Linked DNA regions of Homo sapiens: region 1 is linked to region 2. Evidence: fine-mapped expression QTL. A gene starts in region 2. The other region holds a variant in brackets. All regions are shown on one strand. Distances are from middle to middle. Region 1 overlaps LOC105375065 (a long non-coding RNA gene). Region 2 holds the start of CRIP3 (cysteine rich protein 3).

The links. PIP is the estimated chance that this variant, and not a neighbour inherited with it, causes the effect.
Region 1: its variant is fine-mapped to the expression of CRIP3 in whole blood (TOPMed, PIP above 0.99).

Annotation. Positions count from the first base shown.
Region 1 is chr6:43,393,537-43,401,862 of GRCh38, forward strand. It overlaps LOC105375065 (a long non-coding RNA gene), which reads left to right. Exons shown (of 6, transcript XR_007059585.1): 2 at 4,001-4,190. Among named protein-coding and RNA genes, the nearest start is that of ZNF318, 28 kb to the left of the region's middle. The variant A/G (reference allele first, on the strand shown) is at 3,933.
Region 2 is chr6:43,304,470-43,312,795 of GRCh38, forward strand. CRIP3 (cysteine rich protein 3) reads right to left here and starts at 4,357. Exons shown (of 8, transcript NM_206922.3): 1 at 4,281-4,357; 2 at 3,846-3,940; 3 at 3,370-3,427; 4 at 3,143-3,274; 5 at 1,977-2,048; 6 at 1,750-1,844; 7 at 1,598-1,655; 8 at 1,003-1,406. The coding sequence starts at 4,323. The coding sequence ends at 1,345. It overlaps SLC22A7 (solute carrier family 22 member 7), which reads left to right. Exons shown (of 11, transcript NM_153320.2): 11 at 202-1,069. The coding sequence ends at 256. It also overlaps the pseudogene RPL12P47. RefSeq lists an enhancer at 3,017-3,874.

The DNA of each region.
Region 1 (8,326 bases), 89 kb after region 2:
GGCCGAATAAACTCCTTCCTTTTTAACTCGGTGTCTGAGGAGTTTTGTCTGCGGCTCGTCCTGCTACAGAGAAAGAGAACAAGTAAGAAAGAAAATCAGAAAGAGAAAGGGGAGGAAACGGCAAATATGGAGGGCCAGAGAGAGAGAGAGAGAGAGAGAAAGTTAAGCTGCTGACCCTGAAGGCAAGGGAGAGCTGGCCATGCATCTGTGTGTGTGGGAGCCATTGGACTAAGCAGCTGAGACAGGGTAGACAGTGTAAGACACTGTGCAGGTGCACTGGTGCCCAGAGAAAAAGAAGAGAGCCAGAGCTGTTCATCTTTGCAGACAGAAAGTGGGGAGCCAGGGTACAGCACGGCTCAGCTCGTGCCCAGAGAGAGAAAGAGGAAGAAACTGAGTATGAGGGAGAAAGGAAACGGGATGACAGAGAGAGAGACAGAAGAAGAAAAATGAGTAAGGGGCTGGGCGCGGTGGCTCACGCCTGTAATCCCAGCATTTTGGGAGGCCGAGACGGGCGGATCACGAGGTCAGGAGATCGAGACCATCCTGGCTAACACGGTGAAACCCCGTCTCTACTAAAAATACAAAAAAATTAGCCAGGTACGGTGGCGGGCACCTGTTGTCCCAGCTACTTGGGAAGCTGAGGCAGGAGAACGGCATGAACCTGGGAGGCGGAGTTTGCAGTGAGCTGAGATCACGCCACTGCACTCCAGCTTGGGCGACAGAGCGAGACTCCATCTCAAAAAAAAAAAAAAAAAGAAAAAGAAAAATGAGTAAGAGAGAGAGAGAAAGACTGGAAAAGCCAGAGATCAAAGAGAGACACAGAAGGTGAGACTTGGGAGAAAAATAATGTAAAAGGAAGAAAGAGTACAAGAAGAAGTGAGAGGATGCCGAGAAGTTGGCTGGGCTGGGGGAAGGTTCTAGAGGCTCAAGCAGCAAGGAGGTGCAGGGAAAGGTTACAGTGCGGCCACTAAGGAAGGACAGAGCTCAGGAACTGGGCGATGCAAGTGAGAAACGGATGTGAAGGAGAGCTTAGGATCAGGTTGCTTGAGGAGTAATGGGTTGCCTACAACAAAGACCAGATGGCAGGCCAGGCACGGTGGCTCATGCCTGCAATCCCAGCACTTTGGGAGGCCGAGGCTGGCAGATCACGAGATCAAGAGACTGAGACCATCTTGGCCAACGTGGTGAAACCTCGTCTTTACTAAAAATACAAAAATTAGCTGGGCGTGGTGGCACATGCCTGTAGTCTCAGCTACTTGGGAGGCTGAGGCAGGAGAATTGCTTGAACCCGGGAGGCGGAGGTTGCAGTGAGCCAAGAAGTCGCCACTGCACTCCACTCCAGCCTGGTGACAGAACAAGACTCCATCTAAAAAAAAAAAAAAAAAACCAGATGGCTGTTTGTCAGGAGGTGGTAGAGAGGATTCAGGTTATGGAAGGGTAAATGGATGAGATGACCATTAAGGTTTTGTTGTTGTTTTACTGAGAGGCTGTAAGTCCACCAGGGGCAGCTGCCAGTAAGTCTGCAGAAGGGCTGGCAGGCTACATAAGGAAGATCAGAACTAGGGTTGTAAACTCAAAGGACTACAGGGCCAGCAAAAGATGAGAAGGAGGGCTGCAGGGCTGGGTGGGGACTGTGGCTAACTGAAGAGGGCACACCGTGTTAAAGGGGCCGCAGTGCTCGGCTGTTCTTACAGTGCTGGCCCTGTGTTGCCAAATTGTCTGCTTTCTCAGAGGCCAGAATTCTGACTTTTTACATGAAATATGATTTTTAAATGCTGGGGATCAGTTCAAAAAACTTAAAAACCCAATACAGGCGAGAGAGGATGCCAGTTTGCAGTCCCTGAAGTAGAGAGAGCTCGTGCTGGGGAGAAGTCGGACAAGATGCTTTGAGGTGGGATGTATGAAAGTTCTGTTTCCGGCTGGGTGTGGTGGCTCATGCCTGTAATCCCAGCACTTTGGGAGGCCGAGGTGGGCGGATCACTTGAGGTCAGGAGACCAGCCTGGCCAACATGGTGAAACCACGTCTTTACTAAAAATACAAAAATTAGCTGGATGGGGCGGCACGTGCCTGTAATCCCAGCTACTCGGGAGGCTGAGGCAGGAGAATCACTTGAACCCGGGAGGCGGAGGTTGCAGTGAGTCAAGATCGCGCCACTGCACTCCAGCCTGGCAACAAAGCTAGACTCCGTCTCAAAAAAAAAAAAAAAGAAAAGAAAGAAAGAAAGTTCTGTTTCCCAGAGCCAGGCTGGGCCAGGGGAGGATTCTTGCAGCTGAGGAGGAGAAAAAGCCCCCTCCCAGAGCGGGACAAACCAGAGACCCTTTGCAGTTGCTGGGTCATCAGCAGGGGTGGCATCAAATAAAAACAGTGCAGCTCTCGGCCTGCCAGGAAGATGGATGGTGCCTTCGAAGCAAAGAAAGAGGAAGGGAGGCCAGAGCCAGGGATGCCTTTGCTAATGAGTGTGCCCATCAGGGAAGGCACCACAGGCTGGCAGCTCTTGGCCCAGAGCCAGACCCAGCAGGGCCTGGCCAAAGGCACCCTGGGAGGCCAGCTGGTCAGGCCTTTGCCTCCCCAAGTTCCTCTGGGGTCAACGGGCCTTGGGGAGGTGCCTAACCTAACTCCAGCCAGTTTTTCATGGAAAGGAGAGGATAATAAGAAGCCATCAGACTGTAACTGTTTAGCTATCATAGAATATCAAACTAAAGTTAGATCAGACCTTAAAGAAACTCCACTACATGATGGAATAAGGCTGTTTGTGGATGGGTCATCCCGAGTGATAGATGGTAAAAGACACGACGGCTATGCTGTCATTAATGGAAACAAACAATCCTATGTGAAAAAGGTAGATTACCCAATAACTGGTCAACCCAAACCTGTGAATTATATGCTCTTAACCAGGCCCTAAAGCTCCTAGAAGGCCAAGAAGGCACTATATACTAATTCCAAATATGCCTGTGGAGTAATACACACTTCTGAAAAAAATCTGGACAAAGCACGGCCTAATAAATAGCACGGGGGGAACGAACTGGTACATGGGGAACTGGTCAAACAAGTTTTAAAAAGCCTCCTGCTTCCCGCAGAGGTAGCCGTAGTTGATGTAAGTGGCCATCAGAAAGGAAACACTATAGAAGCTGTAGGGAACAGGCTTGCCGGTGAAGCTGCTAATCAAGTCTCCTGGAGGAAGAAGTTAGACTGTTTAGCCCAATCCCAGATATCCCTAAGGTGGTATTAAGACCCCAATTTTCTAAAGAGGAGGAGGAAGAACTGGGCAAGATAGGAGCCACTCATACTGAGGATGGAAGGTGGGTGCTCTGTAATGGGAGAGAAATGATAAACAAACCCCTTATGAGACAACTAATGTCCATACTGCATAAGGGAAGTCACTGGGGTCCCCAGGCCATGTGTGATGCAATACTCAAAAATTATGGGTGTATAGGGATTTATACCCTTGCTAAACAAGTGTGTGGGGGTTGTGTAACCTGCCAAAAAATAAACAAAAAGGTAGTTAGAAAACAGAGTACTGGAGGAAGACCTCCTGGGTTAAGGCCATTACAAAGCATTCCTGTATTTAGGCAGAACTACTGACCTTCCTACTATGGAAACCAAAGACCAATTTTTAAGAAATTATAGCCTGTAATCCCAGCACTTTGGGAGGTTGAGGCGGGCAGATCATGAGGTCAGGAGATCAAGACCATCCTGGCTAACACGGTGAAACCCCATCTCTACTAAAAATACAAAAAAAAAAAAAAAATTAGCCAGGCATGGTGGCAGGTGCCTGTAGGCCCAGCTACTCGGGAGGCTGAGGCAGGAGAATGGCATGAACCCAGGAGGCAGAGCTTGCAGTGAGCCGAGATCGCTCCACTGCACTCCAGCCTGGGCAACAGAGCGAGACTCTGTCTTAAAAAAAAAAAAAAAGAAATTACATACCGGCCAT[A/G]TCCTCCACCCTGTCATCCCTTAGGTTAAAAAGACTTCTAACTCAAACCCTGCCTCTTGAATTCACAGGTCACCACTTCCAGCCTGGCGACTTGGTGCTAATTAAGACTTGGAAGGAAGACAATCTCCACCCAAGCTGGGAAGGTTCCTATCAAGTGCTCGTGATCACTGAGACAGCCGTAGGAACAGCTGAACGGGGTGGACACTCACACTCGGGTCAAGAGACTGGTAAAAGAAACCCCAGAAGGAAGGGAAAAAGGTGAATGGGAAGTGTATAGATCACCTAAGGAACCCTTAAAGCTAACTCTAAGGAAAACCTAAAAGGAAGCTATAAGCAGGCTCCGTCCTTGGGGGTGGATATGGTTAGGATTAATCCTAATACAAGGGGTGAAAGAAGACCTAAGTATTGAATAGGGCCCAGTACTAGGGGTGGAAAGTAGGGAATATCCAAACTAATAGTCAACATAACCAAGACCTCCACCCTGCCCCAAACTATAAAATTTAATACCTGCCAAGTCTTACCTTGTGGGAATTTAGGGAACCACAGACAGTTGTCACAAGCAGACAAAGATCTATGTCCTAAAACAGACTGTTATTGGGCCCTCTCAGAAAAGCCCTGTGCTAGCTGGAATCAGGTCTGGTGGACCACTCAATATCAAAGTTGGGTGAGTCATTCTTCCAAAAACAAACCCTTATAGAATAAAATACATTTGTTTAAGGGCCCTACGCCACCTAACTGTAGAAATTTAGAATGCAATCCTATATTAATTACGATAAACAACCCAGCTACTCTTGACCGGGAACCTTGGAGGTAGGTATTAGGAACAGATATCTCAGGAAGCAATCTGGTGGAACGGTTTGCTCTTAGGCTAGTCACCAACTCCACCCCGAGCCCACCCAGGATTACTATAACTCCTGGTCCCGCTACCTCCTTTTTTTTTTTTTTTTTTGAGACGGAATCTCACTGTGTCCCCCAGGCTGTAGTGCAGTGGCGCGATCTCGGCTCACTGCAAGCTCTGCCTCCCGGGTTCAAGCCATTCTCCTGCCTCAGCCTCCCAAGTAGCTGGGACTACAGGTGCCCGCCACCACAGCTGGCTAATTTTTTTTTTTGTATTTTTAGTAGAGACGGGGTTTCACAGTGTTAGCCAGGATGGTTTATCTCCTGACCTCGTGATCCGCCCGCCTCGGCCTCCAAAGGGCTGCGATTACAGGCGCAAGCCACCACACCCGGCCTCCCACTACCTCCTTTAATCCACCAGACAATAACTCTAAGAGAATAAAAATAATTAAGGTAACTGACTTGAGGCAGACTTTAGAAATTGAGACTGAATATGGGGATGTAAATGCCTGTTGAATGGGTCAAATTTTTGGTACTAGCTCCTTTTTTTTTTTTTTTTTTTGAGATGGAGTCTCGCTCTGTTGCCAGGCTGGAGTGCAGTGGCACGATCTCAGCTCACTGCAACCTCCACCTCCTGGGTTCAAGCAATTCTCCTGCCTCAGCCTCCTGAGTAGCTGGGACTACTCAGCTACTCGCACAATGCCACGCCCGGTTAATTTTTTTTTTTTCTGTATTTTAGTAGAGATGGGGTTTCACCATGTTGCCCATGCTGGTCTCAAACTGCTGAATCAGGCAATCCACCTGCCTCAGCCTCCCAAAGTGCTAAGATTACAGGCGTGAACCACCGCACCTGGCCAGTACTAGCTCTTAATAAGACCAACTGTTACGCATGCTGTGCTGGGCAGCCTCAGGCACAGGTGGTTCCATTTCCCTAGGATGGGATACCAATCCCGACGGAATGTGTTGCATGTTGGCTCTATACCAGGACACGAATGCATGGGGAAATAAGACTTACAAAAGTCTATCATTGCTCTTTCCCGCCTTACAGAGATCAGACCCTAGAGCAATCCCCTTGTTCTCCAAAGGGAATATGAACCACTCCTCTTGCCTCTCTAGGCAGGGGGCAGAGTTCAGTAAGCCTGTGGGAAAACTCTCAGCTTGTACCCACATCCTAAACATTACTGGTGAGTCAAATAAAGGCAACTACTCAGCATTTCGTATACCCCAGGCTGATGTCTGGTGGTACTATGGGAAGAGAAACCTCTCTAACTTGTTATTGTCCAATTGGACTGGAACTTGTGCTTTAGTTCAAGTGGCCATTCCCTTCACCCTGGCATTCCATAAGATTCCCGAGAATCCACGTGGCCACTGAAGTTGGAGAGATCTAACAAATTATTTTAACCCCAGCACTTGTATTAACTCAATAGGAGTCCCTAGAGGAGTACCTAATAAATTTAAGAACCAAAGGACACAAACATAAATGTGAAAATGGGACCAATAGGAGTAAAAAGAAAAAGAGGAGGGAATTGAAGGAAATAATGCATACACTGGTCCATTTCCAAGACAAAATGCCTTGAATTGGCTTAGGTGAGCAAACTACAGAAGAAACAGGATATACTAGGCCCCTGCTTGGATAGCCAATGCCTGCTTGTCAGCCTCCCCACCTGCCTTAGTTGTCTTCACCTGAACCAAAGAAGTTTAAGATAAAAATTTACTAGTCTGCAAAATAGCTTACTTTGTCTGTTTTTATCAGTCTGTCCAGCTACTTAGGTCATAAGTCAAATACTTAAAGAGCCCTTGAGCTAACTAGGATTGCAACACATTGTGGGCTGCAATAAAATGCACAAGACAACCCCCGCCCCCCGCCAAAAAAACACCTAAAGCCCCTACCCAACAATCAATAGGCAACATCTGGGAAGACTGTGACCACATAGTACTCAGCCTATGAGGAACTGGGAGAGGGACCTGTGCATGAGGGGATAAATTGCTTGTTGAAACTGTGCTGGGTGTACCTGCCTATCAGACACCCAATCTTGCAAGACTGTCATCAAAAGTCTCACTTTCACTGTTCTCTGGGTCTCTGAGTCCATTCTTTGGGTTTGGATGGGTGAGTTCGTTTCTCACACTTCTTCCTTTCTTCTTTCTTTCTATTGCCCAGGCCAGAGTGCAGTGGTCTGATCATGGCTCACTGCAGCCTCAACCTCCTGGACTCAAGCAGTCCTCTCACCTCAGCCTCCTAAAGTGCTGAGATTATAGGCATGCACCACTGCACCTGGCATATTCTGGCAACTTTCTACTTCCCTTCCCTACACAGGTGGAAACACAGCCAAATCATGTCATGGAATGAGTGATGAATTGATGACATTGGATTGTGTCTTCGTGATGATTAATAGGGGCAAATGTCCCCAATATTTTTGAGAGATTCCTCTATGTTTTTACTTTAGTTTTCTCTATAATTTCCTATGATTGGCTTCTACCTCCACACTTGAGTAAAATTGCTCTTGGTGAGGTCACAGAACACCACTTTCTATCCAAATACTTCCACTCTCCCTAGAACCCTCCAAAGCACTTAGCACCTTACCTTTCCCTCCTCAAAAACTCCTCCCAGGCTTCCTCAAGGCTCTTTCCACTGCCCTGGGCCACTCCTTGATCTCTTGTCTAACCATCCCTCTTCCTTTTCCTGCCCTCTAGATTTGGCCAACTGCAGTAGACATTTCTTTTTTGGGAGATAGGGGTGGAGGCTGCTCAGCCCATGAGAATTTCCCACTTTAAGAATCTTATAGGCCAGGCGTGGTGGCTCACGCCTGTAACCCCAGCACTTTGGGAGACCGAGGCATGTGGATCACCTGAGGTCAGGAGTTTGAGACAAGCCTGGCCAACATGGCGAAACCCTGTCTCTACTAAATATACAAAACATTAGCTGCTCATGGTGGCGGGTGCCTGTAATCCCAGCTACTTCCGGGAGGCTGAGGCAGGAGAATCGCTTGAACCCAGGAGGCAGAGGTTGCAGTGAGCCGAGATCATGCCATTGCACTCCAGCCTGGGCAACAAGAGTGAAACTCCGTCTCAAAAAAAAAAAAAAAAAAAGAAAAGAAAAAGACAAAAAGAATTGTATATAGGCCAGGCACGGTGGCTCACGCCTGTAATCCCAGCACTTTGGGATACCTAGGTGGGGGGATCACTTAAGGCCAGGAGTTCAAGACCAGATGGGCCAACATGGTGAAACCCCATCTCTACTAAAAATACAAAAAATTAGCCGGGCGGGGTAACACGCGCCTGTAATCCCAAGTGTTTAGGAGGCTGAGGCTGAGACACGAAAGTCACTTGAACCCAGGAGGCAGAGATTGCAATGAGCCAAGATCACACCACTGCACTCCAGCCTGGGTGACAGATCGAGACTCTGTCTCAAAAACACAAACAAACAAAAAAGACCCCAAGAATCTTATATGAAGCAGATCCTACTTATCACTAGAGATGCTGAAAACACCAGATCCGTGCTTTCCCAGCCTCCTTTGCGGCCAGAGCTGGCACTGTCCTAGGCTGGGCCAGTCAGATGC
Region 2 (8,326 bases):
TTGTTCAGGAAGATGTGTATGTGTGCACACTCAAGTATGCCTACACATCAGGGGTGTGTACAAGCATGTGTGTGAGTCACTTGTACAGGCGTTTGTATACCAGGAACTGGGGTGAGCCCTGGGACAGCCCTGATGGGGCAGGCTGGGGTGGTAGGCTCGGGGATTAAACCCCACCATTGCTCACAACTCCTTCCTCCCTAGTGCCCCAACCAGTCTTCAGGAGGAAGAGATGCCCATGAAGCAGGTCCAGAACTAAGTGGGAGTGGAGGCAGGCCCTCCACAGAAGCTCTGCAGCAGGGGCTGGGAGAGCAGAAGGGCAGGCCCTGCAACTCAGGCTGGGAGTATCGAACCCTCTGCCTAGGGCCGGAGTTGCTGCCAGTACCCGCTCCCTCTGCTCATCCATCCTTGATTATTTGGCTTCTAGGAACAGTTGACTTCCCAGAATGCAGTGGGCTGCTGGGCACCCCTCTCACGGTTGGGGAGGATTCTGTAAATAAAGGTGCCCCTTGGGTTGGGGCAGTGGTGACGAGCTGTGGGAAGAGCCCTGGATAGGAAGCCACTGAGTCTGCCCTGGGCTCTGATAAAACCTTCACCATTAACTTGCTGTGTGACCTTGGGCATGTGGCTTTCCCTCTCTGGGCCTCAGTCTGTTCATCTCCCAAATGGATAATGAAGCCTCTTGGGAGGCCCTACCATAGGATCTGTTGCCATGCTCAAATGAGTTACTGAATAAGGTGCTTCTGCTTCTTCTAGAGATGGTGCTAAAGAAAGGACTAGCATATGAGACTTCTGGTACCAATGGGGCTGGTGGGCATGCTGTCCACTGTGTGGTGCTAGGACTGCCAATGCCAGGCCCAAGGGACAAAAAGAACAGAGCTTTTTGTTCTCATGGCTGGCCCTGCTACCTCCGAGGCACCCTGCAGGGCAATGCATGTCATCCCAACCCCCACACTCCCCATCCTCCAACCCACTGGTCTCATGCCCAAAGAAGAGTTGAAGGCATGGGAGCCAACATTTTATTGAAGAAGCCACAGAGGCTGAAATTCAATAAACACAAGTTTTATGAGTACCTTGAAGCTCCAGAATGTGCTGGGGAAAGGGGTTGTGATGGCCAGGAGGAGGATACCCTTCAAAACGGGCTGTTCCCTAACCAGATAGAAATGGGAAAGGGAAAAAATTGGCAGAGAAAGTCTAGACTCTCTGGCCTACCATGGAGCCTAGGCCCAGGCCCCCAAGATCCCACCTTCCCCAACCCCCATGGGACTGGAGATTTTTGTAGCTTCCATTGGACCATGAGGGGCATGATGGGAGGCCTGAGTTAGGGTGACCTTTTTTGTGAGCGTCTCATTTGAATTTTATCTTCACTGGGTCATAGATGTAGCAGCCCACATCGCCAATGTTCACACCTGAGAGAGAGAGCCCTATCACCAAAGGCCCTGGGTCTGTGGTGCAGGGTTCAGGCCTAGAGGGAACTTGGTGGGGGGGCCAGGGTATGCTTAACCACAGGGGAAGTTGTCCACACATACCCACAGACCATGTACATGCCATACTTCAGGCATGTACATGCCATCCCAGTGTCTGGGATGGGGCTGCCCACCTTTGGGGCCAAACAGGTAGCCGTAGCAGGGGACGTGGCAGTAGGGGACTCCATCATGCTGAGACACAGAGAGAAAGAGAGCTGTCTCAGCCTGGTTCTCTTCCCATCTCCAGCCTCCTCCCAACATAACCACTCATTCCTGCCCTGCTCACCTCAGCATGACTCCCAGCAGTCAGGGTCTTGTGGCAACGCTGGCACCTCAGACACGGTCGGTGCCAATTTCTGCCTAATGACATCACCTTCTCAGCTGGTGGTGGAAAGAAGTGGTAATGCTTCCATTCTAGGGGTAGAGTAGGGAGACCTACCTGCCTTGGATCACCTCCCTCCCCCTTGCTGCCCACCCTGTATCCCCCTCCCCAAGTTTTCCACTGTTACTTACCAAAATAGACGGGCTCCCCACAGCCAGGGCACAGCGAGGTCTCCCCAGTGAATGTCTTCATATGGGGAGGGCCTTTAAAGGGGAAGAGGCCCTGGCTATGTCTGAGGTGGAGATGCCCACCAGCACCTGCCTGCATATGGTGCTGTCCTCTTTCAAAAGCCATGCTCATTCCAGAGTGCCCCACCCAGGCGCCCAAGAGTCTGCCTTCTACAGGCCCAGAGCTGAGCCCCCTCTGACTCCACCTCCTGCCCCATCCCTATGTGTATTAGGGACTATCTGCTTCCTTCTCCTGCTTCCTTTTCATCCTCCCAGGGGCTCACGTACCCACCATCCCAACCCTGTTAGCAACTCAATCCTCAGGAAACTTGAGCTGATATAGGAGCTGGCCACAGCACGGGTGTCAGGTGTTGGGGAGCACAGTGTCATTGCCTACTTCAGGGAATGGAGGGAAAGAACAGGGACCAGAGGAGAAAAGTTGAAGAATATGAGAGGCTGGCCTTATCCCAATGACTCCTCTCCTTTAGATCATTCCTTCCATGGCCCTGGCCTGGGACAGACCTAAGTTCCTGGCCAGCTTTGCCTCTGACTAGCTTTGTGGATGGACAGTCATTTGCCCTGTCTGGATCTCACTTTCCTCACCTGTAACACACGAGGAGAGGGGATAATGCCATCTGCCCAATTAACCTCTTTTTTTTTTTTTTTTTTTTTTTTTGAGATGGAGTCTCGCTCTGTTGCCCAGGCTGGAGTGCAATGGCATGACCTTGACTCACTGCAACCTCCGCCTCCTGGGTTCAAATGATTCTCCTGCCTCAGCCTCCCAAGTAGCTGGGATTACAGGCATGAGCCACCACACCTGGCTAATTTTTGTATTTTTAGTAGAGATGGGATTTCACCATGCTGGCCAGGCTGGTCTCGAACTCCTGACCTCATGATCCACCTGCCTCGGCCTCCCAACAATTTACCTCTTAACTCAGCAGCTCACATGAGGGAATAGAAAGAAAGAAAGAAAAAAAAAGCGGGGAGTAGATAGAGAAGACTTTGCCAAGAATGAAGTTGTGAGAATGTGAAGCAGAGGGCTGGATAGGAGACTGCCACCTGGCCCAACCTCCGCTCCAGCTTGGGGAAGGGTCGGGAGGAGGACTGGGAGGAGCTGAGCCCAGCCTTACTTTTCTTGCCTTGGGGGAGGCCAGTCCTTGGCCTGGGAGGGCTGAAGCTGCTGGGGCTGAGAGGAGTGGTGCAGCCAGGGCTGGGAGTGGGGGGATTGTACAAGTAGGAGCCTACACCACCAATGTTCACCCCTGAAGAGAGAATAGGGGAGGTCAGGCTTGAGCCCCCAGCTCCCAGCCACAAGGAGGGTTCTGCTGACCCATGGCCCCTTAAGGCTGGTACTTACCCCTGGGTCCAAAGAGAGCCCCATAGCATGGCTTGTGGCAGTATGGCCTCCCATTGTGCTGGGCACAAGCAGAGGGAAGTGGGTTACTCAAGGCCAGCGGGAGCCATGCCCCACAGGCCTTCACCCCAGACAGGCTGCCAGGTGTGTCTGTCCACTGGCTGAGTCTGGTGGGCCTGGGAGGGGTGGGGGATGGGCTGGCATGCCAGCATTTCCACTGTGGTCAAGGGAGGAAGAGCAAGAGCAGCTCAGAAGGTGACGCTGCTTCCCACTCACCCTGATCCCCAAAACCATGGGATCCACAGTCACGACCCAGGTTCCCAAATTCCTGGCTGGTGTGGGGTCCACCAGGTGGGCGGCCTTGGGGTTGGCTACTGAGGTTCCCTTTGGCAGGCCTCCAGTGCTGAAGTTGGGGGCTGGTGCCTGGGGGGTGGGAGGCAGTGATGTAAACAGGGCAGTGCTCCCTGGCCAGGTCTTACCTCTGCATGCCCGCCAGGGGACAGGATGCTGTGGCAGCGCTCACATTTCAGGCAGAAGCGGTGCCAGTTCTTGCCCAGGGAGCTCACCTTCTCAGCTGTGGAGGACAAAGTGGAACCGAGCTGCGAGGAGCCTGTCCAAGCATAGGGCCCCTCCTTTCCCTCTTCGGCCCTCTAGGGAATTAGGTTGGCCTGCCCTGCTTCCTGGAGATGAGTGTCTCCAGGAGGCCAGCTCCATCCCGCTCCGGTTTCACACTCCCCACAGAGCTCTCAGAGGAAGGGAGAAGACCCGAGTGGGAGCGGGTGGTGCGGAGACTACCAGCCGCTGCAGGTGAAAAGGGTGTCTGGGACTACACTGTGGCTAGCCCTCCGCGTCCTCAGGGAATCCAGCGGCTCCCATTCGCCCCATCTTCTCCCCCTCCGCAGCCCGGGCCTCACCGAAGAAAACAGGTTGCTGGCAACGCGGACAGGTCCAGCTCATAGCTCCGCTCCAGGCAGCGCACGCGGCACACAGTAGGTACGCCGCTGCGGCTCAGTTCCGCCCCCTCCGCAGGCTCCACCCACGGCTCAGCTTTGAGCCTCCCTGGGCGGAATCCGCGGTTCCTCGGCGCTCATTGGTTATCAGAAATTTAGAACCACTCCACTTGGGAGACAAAGGGCTATTTCGCTGTTACTTCAAAGAGCATTAAAGCCTCGGTCAGACCCACGGGGAGGAGAGAGGATCTTGAAGCCGTGGACTCCAGACTAGGAAGGCACATGTGTAACGAAGACACCTGGACAGGGAGCTCTACTAGTTTCTGGAGCGGTAAGGACAGGAAAAATGTCCACAGTGCAGACATCATTAAAACACTACTCTCTCCAAAGCGAGGGAGTAGGCATTCTTTGAAATGCAAAATTCCACCTTGGCAGTATAGCAAGTGGTTGAAAGCAACAAAATCTGGAGCCCGTCTCTGGTACCCTACTCTTTGACTTCAGGCAAATTACTGAACCTCCCTCTCTGCCTCCATTTTCTCATCTGTGCAATGAGTATGATAACAGTCTCTGCCTCATAGGATTGTTATGAGAGTTAAATAGGTTAATACATGTAGAGTGCCCAAACAGCGCCTGGCATGTAAACGCTGTAACAGCTATAGCTATCACTATGATGGATCCCTTAATGAACTCAAGACTCGGTTTGGAAGCCTCAGAACATGGTCTGTATACAATCGTTTACTCCTAAAGCTGTAGGGTGGCTGGACACAGTGGCTGACACCTGTAATCCCAGCACTTTGGGAGGCCAAGGTGGGCGGATCGCCTGAGGTCAGGAGTCCAAGACCAGCCTGGCCATCGAGGCGAAACTGCGTCTCTACTAAAAATACAAAAATTAGCTGGGCGTGGTGGCGCATGCCTGTAATCTCAGCTACTCGGGAGGCTGAGGCAGGAGAATCGCATGAACCGGGAGGTGTGGAGGTTGCAGTGAGCCGAGATCGCACCACTGTACTCCAGCCTGGGGGACAAGAGCGAGACTCCATCTCAAAATAAATAAATAAATAAAAATGAAAACCAACTACACATTTCTAATCTGGTTTGCTTTAAAATTTTTAAATATTTGTGTTTTTAATGAATGTATTTATTTGAGGCAGGGTCTCTGTTGCCCAGGCTGGAATGTAGTGGTGCATCGTAGCTCACTGCAGTCTCCACCTGCCCGGCTCAAGCGATCCTCTCACTTTAGCCTCTGGAGTAGCTGGGACTACAGACACATGCCACCACACCTGGCTAATTTTTGTATTTTTTGTAGAGATGGGGTTTTGCCATGTTGCCCAGGCTGGTCTCGAATTTCTGGGCTCAAGCGATCCACCTGCCTGGGCCTCCCTAAGTGCTGGGATTACAGGTATATGCCCCCATGCCCAGATAAATATTTGTTAAAAGTAGTTCAATAGACTCTCTGGCACCATTAAAGAGATCCTGGGGACTGCCCAGTCTGTGGGCTGTAATGTTGATGGCCGCCACCCTCATGACATCATAGATGATATCAACAGTGGTTCTGTGGAATGCCCAGCCAGTTAAGCACAAAGGAAAATATTTCAATAAAGGATCATTTGACAACTGGTGGAAAAAAAAAAAAGTAGTTCAATAGTGCTTCAAAGGATATTTCAAGAAATTTAAATCCAGAGAATGGAAGAAATATTTGCAAATCTGATAAGGATCTAGTAACCAGATTATATAAATAACTTATAATGCAATAACAAAAAGACAACCCAATTAAAAGTGAGCAAAGTATTTGAATAGATGTTTTTCTAGAGATACACAAATGGCCAATAAGCACATGAAGAGATGCTGAATATCAATAGTCATTAGGGAAATGCAAATTAGGACCACAATGAGATACCATTTTATACTGACTAGGATGGTTATAATTAAAGAGACAAATATTGGCAAGAATGTGGCAAAATTGGATCCCTCATACATTGTTGGTGGCAACATAAAATGGTGTGGCCACATTGGACAACAGTCTGGCAGTTCCTCAAAAAGTTAAACATAGAGTTACCATATGACTCAGCAATTCCACTTCCAGGTTTATACCCAGGTATATAAGAGAAATGAAAACATATGTCTATACAAAAACTTGTACATGAATGTTCATAGCAGGACTATTTACAATAGTCAAAAGGTAGAAACAGCCCAAAAGTTCATTAACTGATAATGGATAAACAATATGTAGTATATCTGTATGATAGAATATTGCTCAACTGTAAAAAAGAATGTAATACTGATGCATGTTACAACACAGGTAAACCATAAAAACATTAAGTAAGAAAAGCAAGACACAAGAGGCCACATATCATATGAATCAATTCATATGAAATATTTAGAATAGGTAAATCCACAGAGACAGACAGTAGATTAGTGGTTGGCCAGTCAAGGAGATGGAATTGGAAATGTCCACTAATGGGTTCGAAGCTTCTCTATGGGAAGATAAAAATGTTCTGGAATTAGATAGCAGTAATGTTTGTACAACCTTGGAAATATACTAAAAAGCATGAACTGTAGACTTTAAAAAGGCGAATTTTATGGTATATGCGTAATGTCTTAACAACAACAACAACAACAACAATAGAACCTGAAGAAAACTAAAGAAAAAAGGCGGCCAGAAGTGGTGGCTTACGCCTGGTCCCAGCACTTTGGGAAGCTGAGGCAGGTGGACCACTTGAGCCTAGGAGTTAGAGACCAGCCTGGGCAACATGGCGAACCTCATCTCTACAAAAAATCAGCTGGGCTTGGTGGCATGTGCCTGCGAGGCTGAGGTGAGAGAATCACCTGAGCCCGGGAAGTTGAGGCTGTAGTGAGCTGAGATCACGCCACTGCACTCCAGCCTGGGCAACAGAGTGAGACTGTCTCAAAAAAAAAAAAAAAAAAAGGCAGGGGGACTGGGGGGAAAGGTAGCCAATGAAGAGCTGGAGGGAAGAGCTGATAAACTTGTGCCAGTGTCCCAGCAGAGGAGACAATAATCAATCCCTCTATGAAGGATGGAAGTGAAACCGAGTTTTCTTGAGTAAGTTCCTTTGTTACATCAAATCCGTTGAGGAAGGGCTTGCACCAAATTCATCAATGGACTGCAGTGCTGTGCTCTGCTAGGTGAAAGGCGCACTGTCTTAAGTGTCTCCTCTTGGGACATCAGTTCCTTCATCTGGGTAATGGGGTAGGGACTGGGGTCTATGAACTTCCACTGGATATTCCTGTTCCTGAATTGTCTCCATCAATCCTTTTTACTTATAACACTTGTTTTATCATTCTTAAGTTCTAAGGGTAGAAGCCTTCCACACTGTAATTTTTCTACACTTTCTCATTATTTGTTTCTTGTTTCAGGGAATATTTCAAGATGCTTAGTTTTATAACTGTTTCTTGAAAGGCTTCTTCTTTAACAAATTTGAAAAATATTAGTTTTAGCTTCCACTGAATTTTCCTGTCTTGTTTCTGCCTCTCATTTCTTGTTTTTTTTTTTTCTTTTCTTTTTTTTTTTTTTTTTTGAGACAGAGTCTCGCTCTGTTGCCCAGGCTGGAGTGCAGTGGTGCGTTCTCGACTCACTGCAACCTCTGCCTCCTGGGTTCAGGTAATTCTCCTGTCTCAGCCTCCTGAGTAGCTGGGACTACAGGTGCGCGCCACCACGCCCAGCTAATTTTTGTATTTTTAGTAGAGACGGGGTTTCACCATGTTGGCCAGGCTGGTCTCGAACTCCTCCTGACCTCAAGTGATCCATGTGCCTCGGCCTCCCAAAGTGCTGAGATTACATGTGTGAGCCACCGTGCCTGGCCTAAAAATTATTTAAAAAAGAAATGAAGCCGGACGCGATGGTTCACGCCTGTAATCCCAGCACTTTGGGAAGCTGAGGTGGGTGGATCGCTTGAGGTCAGGAGTTCGAGACCAGCCTGGCCAACATGGTGAAATCCTGTCTCTACTAAAAATACAAAAATTAGCCAGGCATGGTGGTGCACGCTTGTAATCCC